Homo sapiens: one gene and its partners. The protein of the gene in region 1 purifies or fractionates together with the protein of each later gene. This does not show direct contact. Each region holds a gene or a part of one and is shown in the gene's direction. Other genes may lie near its edges.

Region 1 (3,416 bases):
TGATATCGTTACCCCCATTTGACAGACGGGGAAAACAGACCTAGGAAGGTTAGATGCTTACTTAAGTGATACAACTGGAGCTTAAGTTCAGGTATTCTGACTCAAGGGTTACCAGAGTTCACAAGGAAAAATACAGGACACCAACTTAAATCTGAGTTTCAGATAAGCAATGAATAATTTTTTAATCATAAGTATATCTCTTGCATAAGTACATCTCATGCAACATTTGGGATATACTTACACTAAAATATTATTTGTGGTTTATCTGAAATTCAATTTAACTGGGCGCCCTGCATTTTATCTTACAACTGTGACTCCCAAATTTGGTGCTTGTTCCTTAGTATTCTGTGATGTTCTGCTGTAATTAAAAATACAAAGTACTGGACAGGCATGGTGGCTATAACCCACCTGTATTCCCAGCACTTTGGGAGGCTGAGCAGATGGGTTCCTTGAGCCCAGGAGCTCAAGACCAGCCTGGGTAACATGGTGAGACCCTGTCTCTAGAAAAAATGCAAAAATTGGCCAGGTGGTGGCATGCACCTGCAGTCCCAGCTATGCGGGAGGCTGAGGTGGGAGGATCACCTGAGCCCAGGGAGGTCAAGGCTACGGTGATTCGTGATTACGCCACTGCACTTCAGCCTGGACAACAGAGTGAGACCCTGTCTCAAAAAAAAAGTACTTTCTCTCTTGTGACTTTCACCCTGGCAGTTTCAGGTTTAGAAATCTTTGGGGGGGTGCTGGGCATGGTGGCTCACACCTGTAATCCCAGCACTTTAGGAGGCCAAGGTGGGTGGATCACTTGAGGTCAAGAGCTCGAGACCAGCCTGGCTAACATGGTGAAACCCCATCTCTACTAAAAATACAAAAATTAGCCGGGTGGTGGTGGCACGCGTCTGTAATCCCAGCTACTCGGGAGGCTGAGGCAGGAGAATTGCTTGAGCCTGGCAGGTGAAGGTTGCAGTGAGCCAAGATCGCGCCACTGCACTCCAGCCTGGGTGACAGAATGAGACCCTGTCTCAAGAAGAAGAAAAAAAAACAAATCTTTTTTTTTCTTTCATTTAACAAAGACGCTTATTAATTTATCTTTCCCCATACTCTTAATCCTCACCAGAGAAACTTGCCCAGGCCAAAGAAGAGAACGTGGGCTTACATCAGACACTGGATCAGACACTAAACGAACTTAACTGTATATAAGCAAAACAGAAGAGTCTTGTTCCAACAGAAACTCTGGAGCTCCGTGGGTCTTTCTCTTCTCTTGTAAGAAGTTCCTTTTGTTATTGCCATCTTCGCTTTGCTGGAAATGTCAAGCAAATTATGAATACATGACCAAATATTTTGTATCGGAGAAGCTTTGAGCACCAGTTAAATCTCATTCCTTCCCTTTTTTTTTCAAATGGCACCAGCTTTTTCAGCTCTCTTATTTTTTCCTTAAGTAGCATTTATTCCTAAGGTAGGCAGGGTATTTCCTAGTAAGCATACTTTCTTAAGACGGAGGCCATTTGGTTCCTGGGAGAATAGGCAGCCCCACACTTTGAAGAATACAGACCCCAGTATCTAGTCGTGGATATAATTAAAACGCTGAAGACCATAACCTTTTGGGTCAACTGTTGGTCAAACTATAGGAGAGACCAGGGACCATCACATGGGTAGGGATTTTCCATCCAGAGCCAATAAAAGGACTGGTGGGGGCCGGGGGTGGCTATTGTGGGAAGTCATAACCCACAGATAGATCAACCTAAGAATCCTGGCCCTTCTCCACTCTCCACCATGCAGGACAAACATCTTCTCAAGCAGTCAACGTAGAATGCTTGGGAAATAGTCATAATTACCCACATATAGTAATTAATAGATGGTAATTAATTGATCCTTGATGTGATGTTCTTTTGCATATTTCCTTCATTCTAAAGTTGTTCCCTGGCCGGGAGCGTTGGCTTTCGCCTGTAATCCCAACACTTTGGGAGGCCAGGACAGATCACTTGAGGTCAGGAGTTCGAGACCAGCCCAGCCAACATGGCGAAACCATGTCTCTACTAAAAATACAAAAATTATGGTGACGCCTGCCTGTAGTCCCAGCTACTCGGGAGGCTGAGGCAGGAGGATCGCTTGAACCCAGGAAGTGGAGACTGCAGTGAGCCGATATCGCACCACAGCGCTCCAGCCTGGTCGACAGAGTGAGACTCCATCTCAAGAAAAAATAAAAATAAAGTTGTTCTCTGAAGAGCAAATGTCTCATTCCAGTAATGACCCACTCAGCAGGAATATGGTGGAGTTCAGTCCAATTCAGGTCAGCCATATCCAAAAGACCACAAGTCATTACTAAGTTGAGCAAAAGAGTTTTTATCTATTAGCAGAAAGGGCCTCTCTGGCAGCAGAGATTAAAAACTGGCCCAACTTCATTTCCATACTTCAGGGAACAGCAAATTGAGGATTTACTTATCTAGGACTTGAATTCCTTCTTTGGGACCAAGTTAATAAAAGACCAAGAAACTCCTGATTAAACTGGATAATGAAGGATTCTGTAGACAGGGCTGCACGTATCGGCTTTGTTTGACTTCTCTTTTCTCAGTTAACATCTCAGAGCTAGAACATTCCACATTCCCCAGCAGCGTGTGGGGGCTGACTAAAGTTTACAATTCCAACTAAAAATCACCCTGCTTCTGGCTTATCTGAATCCCTTACCCACCCCACCCCACCACCCTACTCCTATTTATTCAGCACCACACTACCCAGGAAATACACTAGCAAATTGTGCAATGGAATAAAATCCACACTTTAGATTCTTGCAACTGTATCATATGTAATAGTATCACTTTTTCTACATTTTGGTCAAATAAATTTTTACATAAACTACAATTTGCGTGAATTTTAGAATGTGTGGGGGTACACAGAGCATTTTGGTTCAACAAATGTTAAAGGGATGGAAAGGGAAAATAACCAGAGCCAAGAATGTAGACAAGGTTATCTATTTGCTTTATACTGTGACTTCATGATACAAGGATATTACAGTCTCATTGCAGGCGAGAGCACTCAGCCTCGGTCACTCGAAAACTCCTGGCCTTCCTTATCCCCTACGCTGCCTAAGCCAGGCTGTGAAGAATGAGTAGGATTTTAAGAGATAAAAGCAGGGAAAATCATCTCTGTTGCCTGAGTTAGGAAGATCTGCCTAGCTAAGGCTGAGTTACACATACAAAGGAAAGCAGACCAGCATGGGCACCATAGTGAGACCCCGTCTACAAACAATAACAAAAATTTGGCCAGGTACAGTGGCCAAATTACACCTGTAATCCCAGCACTTTGGGAGGCCGAGGCTGGCGGACCGCTTAGGGCCAGGAGTTCAGGACCAGCCTGGCCAACATTGTGAAACCCCATCTCTACTAAAAACACAAAAATGAGCTGGGCATGGTGGTGCACACCTA
Region 2 (3,908 bases), on another chromosome or scaffold:
GCACTCATACTTTTGTTCCATTAAGCTCACTAAATTGATTTAATTATTTATTAATGGGTCATGGTATCTGGCATTTGAGAGATAGCTTTAATCTAAAGGAGTAAATACCTTGAGAATTTTCAGCAGAAATTTAGGCCTTTGCCTTTACTCCTGTCTCCAATTTTTGAGAAAAGAAAGGTGTTTTTTTGGTTGCTGTTTGTTTTATTTTGCTGATGTGAAATAGGAAGGATTTTTCAGTGCACGGTATCACAATGCATGTGTAAGATGCTAACATGACTTCATGTAAGCTAGGTGATTATCCAATTAACTTCACTTCCAACTCTGGATATATATCCCTGATGAGTTCCAATAGGAACAGTAGTGTATGTAATTCTGCTCTCAGTCCCTGGAATCTGGAATACATGAGGAGGATAACATGAAGTGCCTGGGTTGCTATCAGAGTACATGGAAGTAGAGGTTTCAGGTTATTCTTATCAAGACTTCTCTAGTTATAATGTGTCATCAATAGCTGATTCTTCTTTCTGGCAGGCGGAGATGGTCCACACAGGTTTGAAGTTGGAGCGAGCTCTGTTGGTTACAGCTTCTCAGTGTCAACAGCCAGCAGAAGTAAGTTCACTACTAGCTGGTTTCATTTTGGTTTGATGCTCAGGACGAGTTGAGAGATTTATGTCAAGCTATTATAACATTTTAAAATAGACCTACTAGGCTTTTGATAATATATGTTCATACCAAGTCCCAGAGGTAGAGCCATACTTCAAGTGCCTTAATGGGAAGGTACTATTGGGTACTTAATGGTCTCTACTGGCTTTTTCTCTGTCATTTTGCATAGGACTGTGGTTATCCCTGGGACTTTGCTTGCCTGCCTCTTTGCTGAGTCCACATTCATCATAGTGTCTCCAAAGCCCTTTAAAGATGATTCTCTTGCTTCACTGTGGATGGGCTTTAGTAGTGCTCCTGTGGAGATCTTAAAACTCCTACAGTATTGCTTCTCTCCTCATCCTTCACTGGTTGGGAGACTCTCTCTTTAATTTTACTCCCACCTCAAAATTTTATGGTGCAAGATGTGAAAAGTTGAATTAGAGAAAATTTAGATTTCTCTTGGAGTCAAAGAATATAGGTTTCCTTCTTTTGCATTTGGTTTTCCTAGTTACAGAGGAATAATAAAGCAAGTTGTCCTAAATGCTGTATTAAAACCCTTGACCCTCAGCATGCCTAGATAATATAAAAATAGTGCAAGATAATGTCAAATATATTAGATTCTGGTTAAGTGTGCTGGCTCATTCCTGTAATCCCAGCACTTTGGGAGGCTGAGGCAGGAGGATCACTTGAGGCCAGGAGTTTGAGACCAGCCTGGGCAACATAGCAAGACCTCGTCTCTATTAAAAATTAAAAAAATAAAATAAATAAAAATAGCCAGGCAAGGTGGTGCATGCGTATAGTCCCAGCTACTTGAGAGGCTGAAATGGGAGGAAGATTTGGGCCTGAAAGTTTGAGGATGCAGTGAGCCATGAACACACCACTGCACTCCAGCCTGGGCGACAGAGCAAGACCTTCTCTCAAAAAACATTGTGTGTGTGTGTGTGTGTGTGTGTATAGATGCCATCTAATTCTAATATGTAGAATTAGATTTTAATTCTTAATCTGTCCTGAATGGTTAAGATCTGAGAATTGAGATGTTCAGGAAATGGAGCTTTGGAGGAAGGGTGCAAACACAAACAAAATTCATCCATTTTGCCAAGGTGCCTACTTGAATGCTAAGCCCCTAATTGTTTTTTATTTTATTTATGTTTAAAAAAAAATTTTTTTTTTGAGACAGGGTGTTGTTTTGTCACCCAGACTGGAGGGTAGTGGTGCAATCACAGCTCACTGAAGCCTTGACCTCCCAGGTGTAATGATCCTCCCACCTCAGCCTCCTGAGTAGCCTTGACTACAGTGTGCACCACCATGCCTGGCTTGCTTATTTACTTACTTATTTATTTATTTATTTCTGAGATGGAGTTTCTCTCTGTCGCCCAGGCTGGAGTGCAGTGGCAGGATCTCGGCTCACTGAAACCTCCACCTCCCAGGCTCAAGTGATTCTCCCACCTCAGCCTCCTGAATAGCTGGGACTACAGGCATGCGCCACCATGCCCAGCTGATTTTTGTATTTTTATAGAGATGGGGTTTCCCCATGTTGCCCAGGCTGATCTTAAACTCCTGGACTCAAGCGATCTGCCCACCTTGGCCTCCCAAAGTGCTGGGATTACAGGCGTGAGCCACCATGCCTGGCCCTAATTCTTTTTATTATTTGTAGAGACAAAGTTGTGCTGTGTTGTTCAGTCTGTCTTGAACTCCTGGTCTCAAGCAGTTCTCCTGCCTTGGCCTCCCAAAGTGCTGGGATTACAGGCGTGGGTCACCATGCCCAGACTAAGCCCCCTAATTGCATTTGATTCATCAGTTCTTTACAGCAGCTACTATATGGCTGGCAATGCATTGGGGGCTTTCATGATGATAAAAGAGCTCGTCTTTGAAGAATTAATGAGAAAGTAAAACATATTCACATGGGTCCATTAATAGTTTGTATTGGTGAGTGATAAAATGCCAAGATTGGTTATGCTGACAACAAATGCTGTAGGAGGCTGGTGTGGCTGGGTTGGAGGGCCCTCATGAAGCATGAGGAAAATTTGGATTCATGGGAAAAAAAGAGAACATCATGAGTAAGGCACAGGAATGATGTCCTGAGTGTATGTCCTCTGAGTGGAACAAAAAAGAGACAGGTGGCTGAAATGGAGGTTCTGTGGTATAGCTGAAGTATGGGTCCTGATCATGAAGAACCATCAGGTGCAGCCTGAGGAGTTGGAACTCTACGAGGAGAGTGAGATGATGAGCAGTATTTTAGCCTTAGGAATCAGGACAGGACTCATGCAGTTTATTTGGGTGCTCACTAGAGTCCATAGAGAATTCTTGCCTTCAGGATCAGAAGGCATAGACACCTTTGTGGAAAGATGTTAACCTGAATCTTTTCTTGTATCTTTTCCTAGAATAAGCTTTCCGATTTGTTGGCACCCATCTCAGAGCAGATCAAAGAAGTGATAACCTTTCGGGAGAAGAACCGAGGCAGCAAGTTGTTTAATCACCTGTCAGCTGTCAGCGAAAGTATCCAGGCCCTGGGCTGGGTGGCTATGGTGAGCAGCGCAGATTCCAGGGCTGGGGGTGGGTATAGATTTTAAGAGGGAAGGCAATATAGTTGGAGAGGTCCTGAGTCACTGACAGCTTGTCTCTCTCTAGGCTCCCAAGCCTGGCCCTTATGTGAAAGAAATGAATGATGCCGCCATGTTTTATACAAACCGAGTCCTCAAAGAGTACAAAGATGTGTAAGTTCAGCCTTTTCTCTCTTTTTTTCTTTTCTGAGACAGTGTCTTGCGTTGTCACCCAGGCTGAAGTACAGTGGCACAATCACAGCTCATTGCAGCCTCAACCTCCCAGCTCAAACAATCCTCCCACCTCAGTCCTCCAAGTAGCTGGGACTTCAGGCACGCTCCACCATGCCTGGCTAATTTTCTAATTTTTTCGTAGAGATGAGGTCTCACTGTTTCCCAGGCTGGTCTCTAATGATTCTCCTGCCTTGGTCTCCCCAAAGTGCTGGGATTACAGGTGTGAGCCACTGTGCCCAGCCAAGTTCAGCTTTTTCTCAAGGGGTAAAGGATAAACCCATTTGGTTACTTGCTGGAGTAGCACTTTGGAGTTACTGAGGGCTGCCCTTAGCCACTGTGCTGGTTTTATCTCAGGGCTGCTTTCTGGAGAGCTTTACAGATATTGTCTCACAGCTGCATTTGCAAGCAGGAAATACTTCTGCTTCCACTTCTGCTTTCTCTCCTTTTTTGGTAGAGGCCCTTTTAGTCTTCTGATCCTTACCCTTCTGGGTTTAG
Region 3 (3,908 bases), on another chromosome or scaffold:
ATTTCAAAAGCCTACCTTGAACAGTACATATATAAGTTGCCCTCTTTATTTTTATTTAATTATTATTATTTTTTTGAGACAGAGTCTCGCTCTGTCCCCTAGGCTGGAGTGTAGTGTCATGATCTCAGCTCACTGCAACCTCCGCCTCCCTAGTTCAAGCATTCCCGAGTAGCTGGGATTACAGGGGCGTGCCACCACACCCAGCAAATTTTTGTATTTTTAGTAGAGACGGGGTTTCACCATGTTGGTCAGGATGGTCTCGAACTCCTGACCTTGTGATCCACCCGCCTTGGCCTCCCAAAGTGCTGGAATTACAGGCATGAGCCACGGCACCCAGCAAGTTGCCCTACTTACCGAACAAATGTGTTAACTTAAAAGTAGATGACCTGTTTTGTTTTGTTTTGTTTCGTTTTTTGAGATAGAATCTTGTTCTGTCACCCAGGCTGGAGTGCAGTGGCGTGATCTTGGCTCACTGCAACCTCCGCTTCCCGGGTTCAAGCCGATTCTCCTGCCTCAGCCTCCCGAGTAGCTGAGATTACAGGCATGTGCCACTACACCTGGCTGATTTTTGTATTTTTAGTAGAGACGGGATTTCACCATGTTGTCCAGGCTGGTCTCGAACTCCTGACCTCAAGTGATCCGCCCGCCTCAGCCTCCCAAAGTGCTGGGATTACAGGTGTGAGCCACCATGCCCAGCTGATCACCTGTATTATTCTGTCCTACCTGCCTCTGCATAAGTAATTAAAGGCATTTTTAAGTTCATTTCATGAATTAATAGACATGGCTTTTGAGAGAGTTAAATGTGAATATTCTCTTTGCCATCAGGACAAAGCAGGACCTCATAAGGAAATCTACCCCTATGTCATCCAGGAACTTAGACCAACTTTAAATGAACTGGGAATCTCCACTCCGGAGGAACTGGGCCTTGACAAAGTGTAAACCGCATGGGTAAGCGACAAACCACTGAAGAAGGCAGGAAAACAATCCAGAGAGGTGTGGGTGGATGACATTTCAGTGTGCTATAGTAAGACCTTTCAGTGTTCTTGTTAGAGGTAATGGCCGTGAGCATGAAGAGATTTTGAGAATACCAGTAATGGTAAATTTAAAGAACTGAAATGATTTCTAGTTGTTGTCATTATTTTCTTTCTTTCCTTCTTTTCTTTCTTTCGTCTTTTTTTTTTTGAGATGGAGTCTTATTCTGTTGCCCAGGCTGGAGTGCAGTGGTGCAATCTAGGCTCGCTGCAGCCTCCGCATCCTGGATTCAAGCCTCAGCCTCCCAAGTAGCTGGGACTACAGGCCACATGCCACCACAACTGGCTAATTTTTGTATTTTTAGTAAAGACGGGATTTCATCCTGTCGGCCAGGCTGGTCTCAAACCCCTGACCTCATGATCCACCTGCCTTGGCCTCCCAAAGTGCTGGGATTACAGGCTTGAGCCACCGCGCCCGGCATCATTATTTTCTTACTGGTAGAAAGACAAATAAAAGCCACCTTAATTAAAGAAAAATCTTCATACAATATTCTAGGCATAAACAGTAGCATAGATGATAATATAGTGAGTCTGTGTACACATATCCAGATTTTCAGATACTTTTATTGTTGCCACATTTGCTTTGGTGTGTTTAAAGTATTTCTATTTGGGCTGGGCACAGTGGCTCACGCCTGTAATCCCAGGACTTTGGGAGGCCGAGGCGGGTGGATCACAAGGTCAGGAGTTCGAGACCAGCATGGTGAAACCTTGTCTCTACTAAAAATACAAAAATTAGCTGGGTGTGGTGGCATGTGCCTGTAGTCCCAGCTACTCGGGAGGCTGAGGCGGGAGAATCACTTGAACCCAGGAGGCAGAGGTTGCAGTGAGCCGAGACTGTGTCACTGTACTCCAGCCTGGGTGACAGAGTGAGACTCTGTCTCAAAAAAAAAAAAAAAAAAAGACTCAACTTGGCTGGCAGCAATGGCTCATGCCTGTAAGCTCAGCACTTTGGGAGGCTAAGGTGGAAGGATTGCTTGAGTTCAGGAGTATCAGGAGTTTGAGACTGGCTTGAGCAACATAGTGAGACCCTGTCTCCTTTAGTTAATTAAATACATACATACATAGAAAGAAAAATATTCAGAATTCAAGGAATTTTTATATTCAGTCTTCCTGTTGAGAAACTGAACAGAAAATGCTGAAAACTTTGTAATCTACTTTTAAGATTTTTTTTTTTTTTTTTGAGACGGAGTCTCACTCTGTCACCTAGGCTGGAGTGCAATGGCATGATCTCGGCTCACTGAACTTCCGCCTCCCGGGTTCAAGCCGATTCTTGTACCTCAGCCTCCTAAGTAGCTGAGATTACAGGCATGCACCACCATGCCCGGCTAATTTTTGTATTTTTAGTAGAGACGGTTTCACCATGTTGGCCAGGCTGGTCTTGAACTCCTGATTTCAGGTGATCCACCCGCCTCAGCCTCCCAAAGTGCTGGGATTACAGGCATGAGCCACCACGCCCAGGTGGGATCTCGTTTTAAAGCTTGCTTTAACGGAGTGGTCTTTTTGTTTGTTTTTGTTTAATTTATTTATTTTTAATTTTGTTATAGAGACAGAGTCTCACTATGTTGCCCAGGCTGTTCTTGAACTCCTGGGCTCAAGTGATCCTTCCACCTTGGCCTTCCAAATTATTTGGGTTTCAGGTGTGAGCCAAAAGCAATGGTCTTTTCATTTTATCTTTGTCCACCCCCTCACCAGCACAACCTCCCTGAAGTAGCTCATCTTTATAATATATGCAATGGTTTTGACTTCTGTGAGTACTTAAAGAAAACTAGTTGTTCAGAATGGAAATTTTCCTAGTTATACTTTTGAAGCTCTTGTTTGTTTTTTGTTGTTGTTTTGAGACGGAGTCTCACTCTGTCGCCCAGGCTGGAGTACAGTGGCACGACCTCTGCTCACTGTAACCTCTGCCTGTTGGGTTCAAACAATTCTCATGCCTCAGCCTCCCTAGTAGCTGGGATTACAAGTGCCCACCACCATGCCCGGTTCATTTTTGTATTTTTAGTAGAGACCGGGTTTCGCCATGTTGGCCAGGCTGGTCTTGAACTCCTGACCTCAGGTGATCCACCCGCCTCAGCCTCCCAAAGTGCTGGGCTTACAGGTGTGAGCCACCGCGTCTGGCCCTGTGATTGATATTCTTTTTCTTTTTTTTTTTTTTTTTTTGAGACGGAGTCTGGCTCTGTCACCCAGGCTGGAGTGCAGTGGCATGATCTCGGCTCACTGCAAGCTCCGTTTTCCAGGTTCACGCCATTCTTCTGCCTCAGCCTCCCGAGTAGCTGGGACTACAGGCACCCGCCACCATGCCCGGCTAATTTTTTGTATTTTTAGTAGAGACGGGGTTTCACCGTGTTAGCCAGGATGGTCTCAAATCTCCTGACTTCGCGATCTGCCTGCCTCGGCCTCCCAAAGTGCTGGGATTACAGGCGTGAGCCACCGCGCCCAGCCCTGTGGTTCATATTCTATAATGAACTCCTAAAAGATGGTTTTAGTTTTCATTTTATCAAGTATTATTCCAAGGGGTCCAGAAGATCTTTTTTATGTAGGATATATTCTAGCTATACTAACTTTTTTTCTTTTTTTCTTTTTTTTGTTGGGAGACAGAGTCTTGCTCTGTCATCCATGCTGAAGTGCAATGAAGCGATCTCGGCCCACTCCAACCTCCGCCTCCCGGTTGAAGAGATTCTCGTGCCTTAGCCTCCCGAGTAGCTGGGACTGCAGGCATGGGCCACCACACCAGGCTAATTTTTTGTATTTTAGTGGAGACGGGGTTTCACCGTGTTGCCCAGGGTGGTCTTGAACTTCTATGCTCAGGCAATCCATTCGCCTCGGCTTTCCAAAGGGCTAGCGTTACAGGCATGAGTCACCGTGTCCGGCCCAAAAAAA
Region 4 (3,908 bases), on another chromosome or scaffold:
CTGGATTTGGGAGTATTTTTAAAAATAATTGTTTTAAATGTAAAATAAATAATAGGTAATTCCTAAAGCAACAGGGTTAGTGTTTCAGGAAGAAGTACTTTAGACTTCCACTGGGAAAAAATTAATTTTTCTTATTGGTTAGACTTTTGCAGCTCCAGAGATCGGTTGTCTGCCAAGAATCAGACCTTCCTGATGAGCTGCTTTATGGACGGGCAGGTTATCTGTATGCCTTACTGTACCTGAACACAGAGATAGGTCCAGGCACCGTGTGTGAGTCAGCTATTAAAGAGGTACTATGGGGTATGGGTAACTATGGGCGTCTCTACCATTCAAACCTATTTGCTAGCATTGAGTTGTATTAACAGCTGGACTTTACTTCTAGGTAGCATTACTTTTTTAAAGCAACTCATCAAAAGTAAGAAATAGTCCCTGCTTTTTTCTAGGAACATTAACAAAAAAAATCTGTACTCTCTTTCATCTTGTATTAATTTATCAGTTTTTACTGGAGCTAAACAGCAGCAGCTTCAGAAAGTTAGAATGTTTATTTATCTTTCGTGAGATGTCTCAGCTGGTAAGCATTTCAGGCTGGTATGAGTGGGGACCAGCTTCTTCTGTCTCATTCTGCCTTATCCTAGGGGCATACCCTTATTTGCAGGACCAAGGCTAGTTTAGCCCCTCAGCCTATGAAGGGAAAAGAGGAGGTGGAGGCAACGCAGCTTCCTTGTTAGGGACTCAGTCTCCAAGTTGCCCTCTTTACTTCTGCTCCCATCCCAGTGCCAGAACTTCATCAAGTGTCTGTGTTCAGCTGTCTCTAACTAGGGAGCCAGATGCCCAGCTAAAACTTGGAATACTTTCCCAAAAAGGATGAGAGGAGATAGACGTGAGGAAACAGTCATCCCAGACATGATATTCTGTTGATCTAACTGAAATCCTTCATGCCACAGCAGACCTCATATCATTAGCCTTTTATAAATAAAGCCAGTTCCTCCAGCCTTTCCTGATAGGTGTATGTGCTGCTCTTTTGGGAAAAATACTGCAGCTACGAAGCAACTAAGAAATCCAAAACAGTTTTATAAGAAGTTTTTCTAGATTTTTCGTTGACTTTTTATGCAAAGAATTTTTTATTTCTTAGACAGTATCTTTTCCTACTCTGACATTGGCTCCTGATTTCTTTTTGCCTGCATTTATTAATTTATAAAATAAATATAACTATATTAGCTGCTAACTGCTTAAAGACTTTTAGATTAAGGCTTCTGCCTCTCTCTCTATATATGTCATATATATATGACATACTGTTAATTAGACTACAACAGGGTACATATACAGTTTTAGATTTATGCTGTCTTGTTATCTCTGTAGGTAGTCAATGCTATTATTGAATCGGGTAAGACTTTGTCAAGGGAAGAAAGAAAAACGGAGCGCTGCCCGCTGTTGTACCAGTGGCACCGGAAGCAGTACGTTGGAGCAGCCCATGGCATGGCTGGAATTTACTATATGTTAATGCAGGTAGGTAAGAATACTCTTACACACTACAGTATATTTGATCAAACATGAAATGGGAAATGAATCCTGCATATAAACAAAGCAGTCTGGATTGAAATACCCTACTTTGAATCGCTGATGCGTAACTCTGCCACATAAACCACAGGCAGTGGATTTCTAAGAGTCCAGTGAGTTCCTGAGTACATTTGGTATGGAGTCTTTTTTTTTTTTTTTTTTTTTTTTTTCCAATTTTCTTTTTTTTTTTTTTTTGATCATTCTTGGGTGTTTCTCGCAGAGGGGGATTTGGCAGGGTCACAGGACAGTAGTGGAGGGAAGGTCAGCAGATAAGTGAACAAAGGTCTCTGGTTTTCCTAGGCAGAGGACCCTGCGGCCCTCTGCAGTGTTTGTGTCCCTGGGTACTTGAGATTAGGGAGTGGTGATGACTCTTAACGAGCATGCTGCCTTCAAGCATCTTGTTTAACAAAGCACATCTTGCACCACCCTTAATCCATTTAACCCTGAGTGGACACAGCACATGTTTCAGAGAGCACAGGGTTGGGGGTAAGGTCACAGATCAACAGGATCCCAAGGCAGAAGAATTTTTCTTAGTACAGAACAAAATGAAAAGTCTCCCATGTCTACCTCTTTCTACACAGACATGGCAACCATCCGATTTCTCAATCTTTTCCCCACCTTTCCCCCCTTTCTATTCCACAAAACCGCCATTGTCATCATGGCCCGTTCTCAATGAGCTGTTGAGTACACCTCCCAGACGGGGTGGTGGCCGGGCAGAGGGGCTCCTCACTTCCCAGTAGGGGCGGCCGGGCAGAGGCGCCCCTCACCTCCCGGACGGGGCGGCTGGCCGGGCAGAGGGGCTCCTCACTTCCCAGTAGGGGCGGCCAGGCAGAGGCGCCCCTCACCTCCCGGACGGGGCGGCTGGCCGGGCGGGGGGCTGACCCCCCCGCCTCCCTCCCGGACGGGGCGGCTGGCCGGGCGGGGGGCTGACCTCCCCGCCTCCCTCCCCGGACGGGGCGGCTGGCCGGGCAGAGGGGCTCCTTACTTCCCAGTAGGGGCGGCCAGGCAGAGGCGCCCCTCACCTCCCGGACGGGGCGGCTGGCCGGGCGGGGGGCTGACCCCACCACCTCCCTCCCGGACGGGGCGGCTGGCCGGGCAGAGGGGCTCCTCTCCTCCCAGTAGGGGCGGCCGGGCAGAGGCGCCCCCCACCTCCCGGATGGGGCGGCTTGCCGGGCGGGGGGCTGACCCCCCCACATCCTTCCCGGACGGGGCGGCTGGCCAGGCGGGGGATGACCCCCCCACCTCCCTCCCGGATGGGGCGGCTGGCTGGGCGGGGGGCTAACCCCCCCACCTCCCTTCCGGACGGGGCGGCTGGCCGGGCGGGGGGCTGACCCCCACCTCCCTCCCAGACGGGGTGGCTGCCGGGCGGAGACGCTCCTCACTTCTCAGACGGGGCGGTTGCCGGGCGGAGGGTCTCCTCACTTCTCAGACGGGGCGGCCGGGCAGAGACGCTCCTCACATCCCAGACGGGGCGGCAGGGCAGAGGCGCTCCCCACATCTCAGACGATGGGCGGCCTGGCAGAGACGCTCCTCACTTCCTAGATGGGATGGCGGCTGGGCAGAGATGCTCCTCACTTTCCAGACTGGGCAGCCAGGCAGAGAGGCTCCTCACATCCCAGACGATGGGCGGCCAGGCAGAGACGCTCCTCACTTCCCAGACGGGGTGGCGGCCGGGCAGAGGCTGCAATCTCGGCACTTTGGGGGGCCAAGGCAGGCAGCTGGGAGGTGGAGGTTGTAGCGAGCCGAGATCACGCCACTGCACTCCAGCCTGGGCACCATTGAACACTGAGTGAGTGAACGCGACTCCGTCTGCCATCCCGGCACCTCGGGAGGCCGAGGCTGGCGGATCACTCGCGGTTAGGAGCTGGAGACCAGCCTGGCCAACACAGCGAAACCCCGTCTCCACCAAAAAAATACGAAAACCAGTCAGGCATGGCGGCGCGCGCCTGCAATCGCAGGCACTCGGCAGGCTGAGGCAGGAGAATCAGGCAGGGAGGTTGCAGTGAGCCGAGATGGCAGCAGTACAGTCCAGCTTTGGCTCGGCATCAGGGGGAGACCGTGGAAAGAGAGGGAGAGGGAGAGGGAGAGGAGGGAGAGGGAGAGGAGGAGCCTTTCCAATTTTCTTTCGGTATGGAGTCTTAAAGCAGATTAGTTATCTGTTCCCCACACTTTTCTGGGTTTTTTTTGTTTGTTTGTTGTTTTTTTTTTTTTTTTTTTTGAGACAGAGTCTCACTCTGTCGCCCAGGCTGGAGTGCAGTGGTGTGATCTCGGCTCACTGCAACCTCCACCTCCCAGGTTCCGGTGATTCTCCTGCCTCAGCCACCCGAGCAGCTGGGACTACAGGCGCGCAC

The links. Proteins that work in one complex are often made in the same cells at the same time.
Region 2: the proteins of TPM4 (region 1) and CAP1 fractionate together in Homo sapiens (co-fractionation; one large-scale study listed by BioGRID). This does not show direct contact.
Region 3: the proteins of TPM4 (region 1) and COX5A fractionate together in Homo sapiens (co-fractionation; one large-scale study listed by BioGRID). This does not show direct contact.
Region 4: the proteins of TPM4 (region 1) and LANCL2 purify together in Homo sapiens (affinity purification with mass spectrometry; one large-scale study listed by BioGRID and IntAct). This does not show direct contact.

The regions. Positions count from the first base shown.
Region 1 is NC_000019.10:16,100,153-16,103,568, forward strand, and holds the end of TPM4 (tropomyosin alpha-4 chain), read left to right. Parts: intron 1-1,111; coding exon 1,112-1,194; 3' UTR 1,195-2,850; downstream 2,851-3,416. UniProt on the Homo sapiens protein: Binds to actin filaments in muscle and non-muscle cells. Plays a central role, in association with the troponin complex, in the calcium dependent regulation of vertebrate striated muscle contraction.
Region 2 is NC_000001.11:40,061,207-40,065,114, forward strand, and holds part of CAP1 (adenylyl cyclase-associated protein 1), read left to right. Parts: intron 1-528; coding exon 529-606; intron 607-3,020; coding exon 3,021-3,164; intron 3,165-3,267; coding exon 3,268-3,353; intron 3,354-3,908. UniProt on the Homo sapiens protein: Directly regulates filament dynamics and has been implicated in a number of complex developmental and morphological processes, including mRNA localization and the establishment of cell polarity.
Region 3 is NC_000015.10:74,920,688-74,924,595, reverse strand, and holds part of COX5A (cytochrome c oxidase subunit 5A, mitochondrial precursor), read left to right. Parts: intron 1-825; coding exon 826-939; 3' UTR 940-948; intron 949-3,908. UniProt on the Homo sapiens protein: Component of the cytochrome c oxidase, the last enzyme in the mitochondrial electron transport chain which drives oxidative phosphorylation.
Region 4 is NC_000007.14:55,399,815-55,403,722, forward strand, and holds part of LANCL2 (lanC-like protein 2), read left to right. Parts: intron 1-142; coding exon 143-290; intron 291-1,359; coding exon 1,360-1,506; intron 1,507-3,908. UniProt on the Homo sapiens protein: Necessary for abscisic acid (ABA) binding on the cell membrane and activation of the ABA signaling pathway in granulocytes.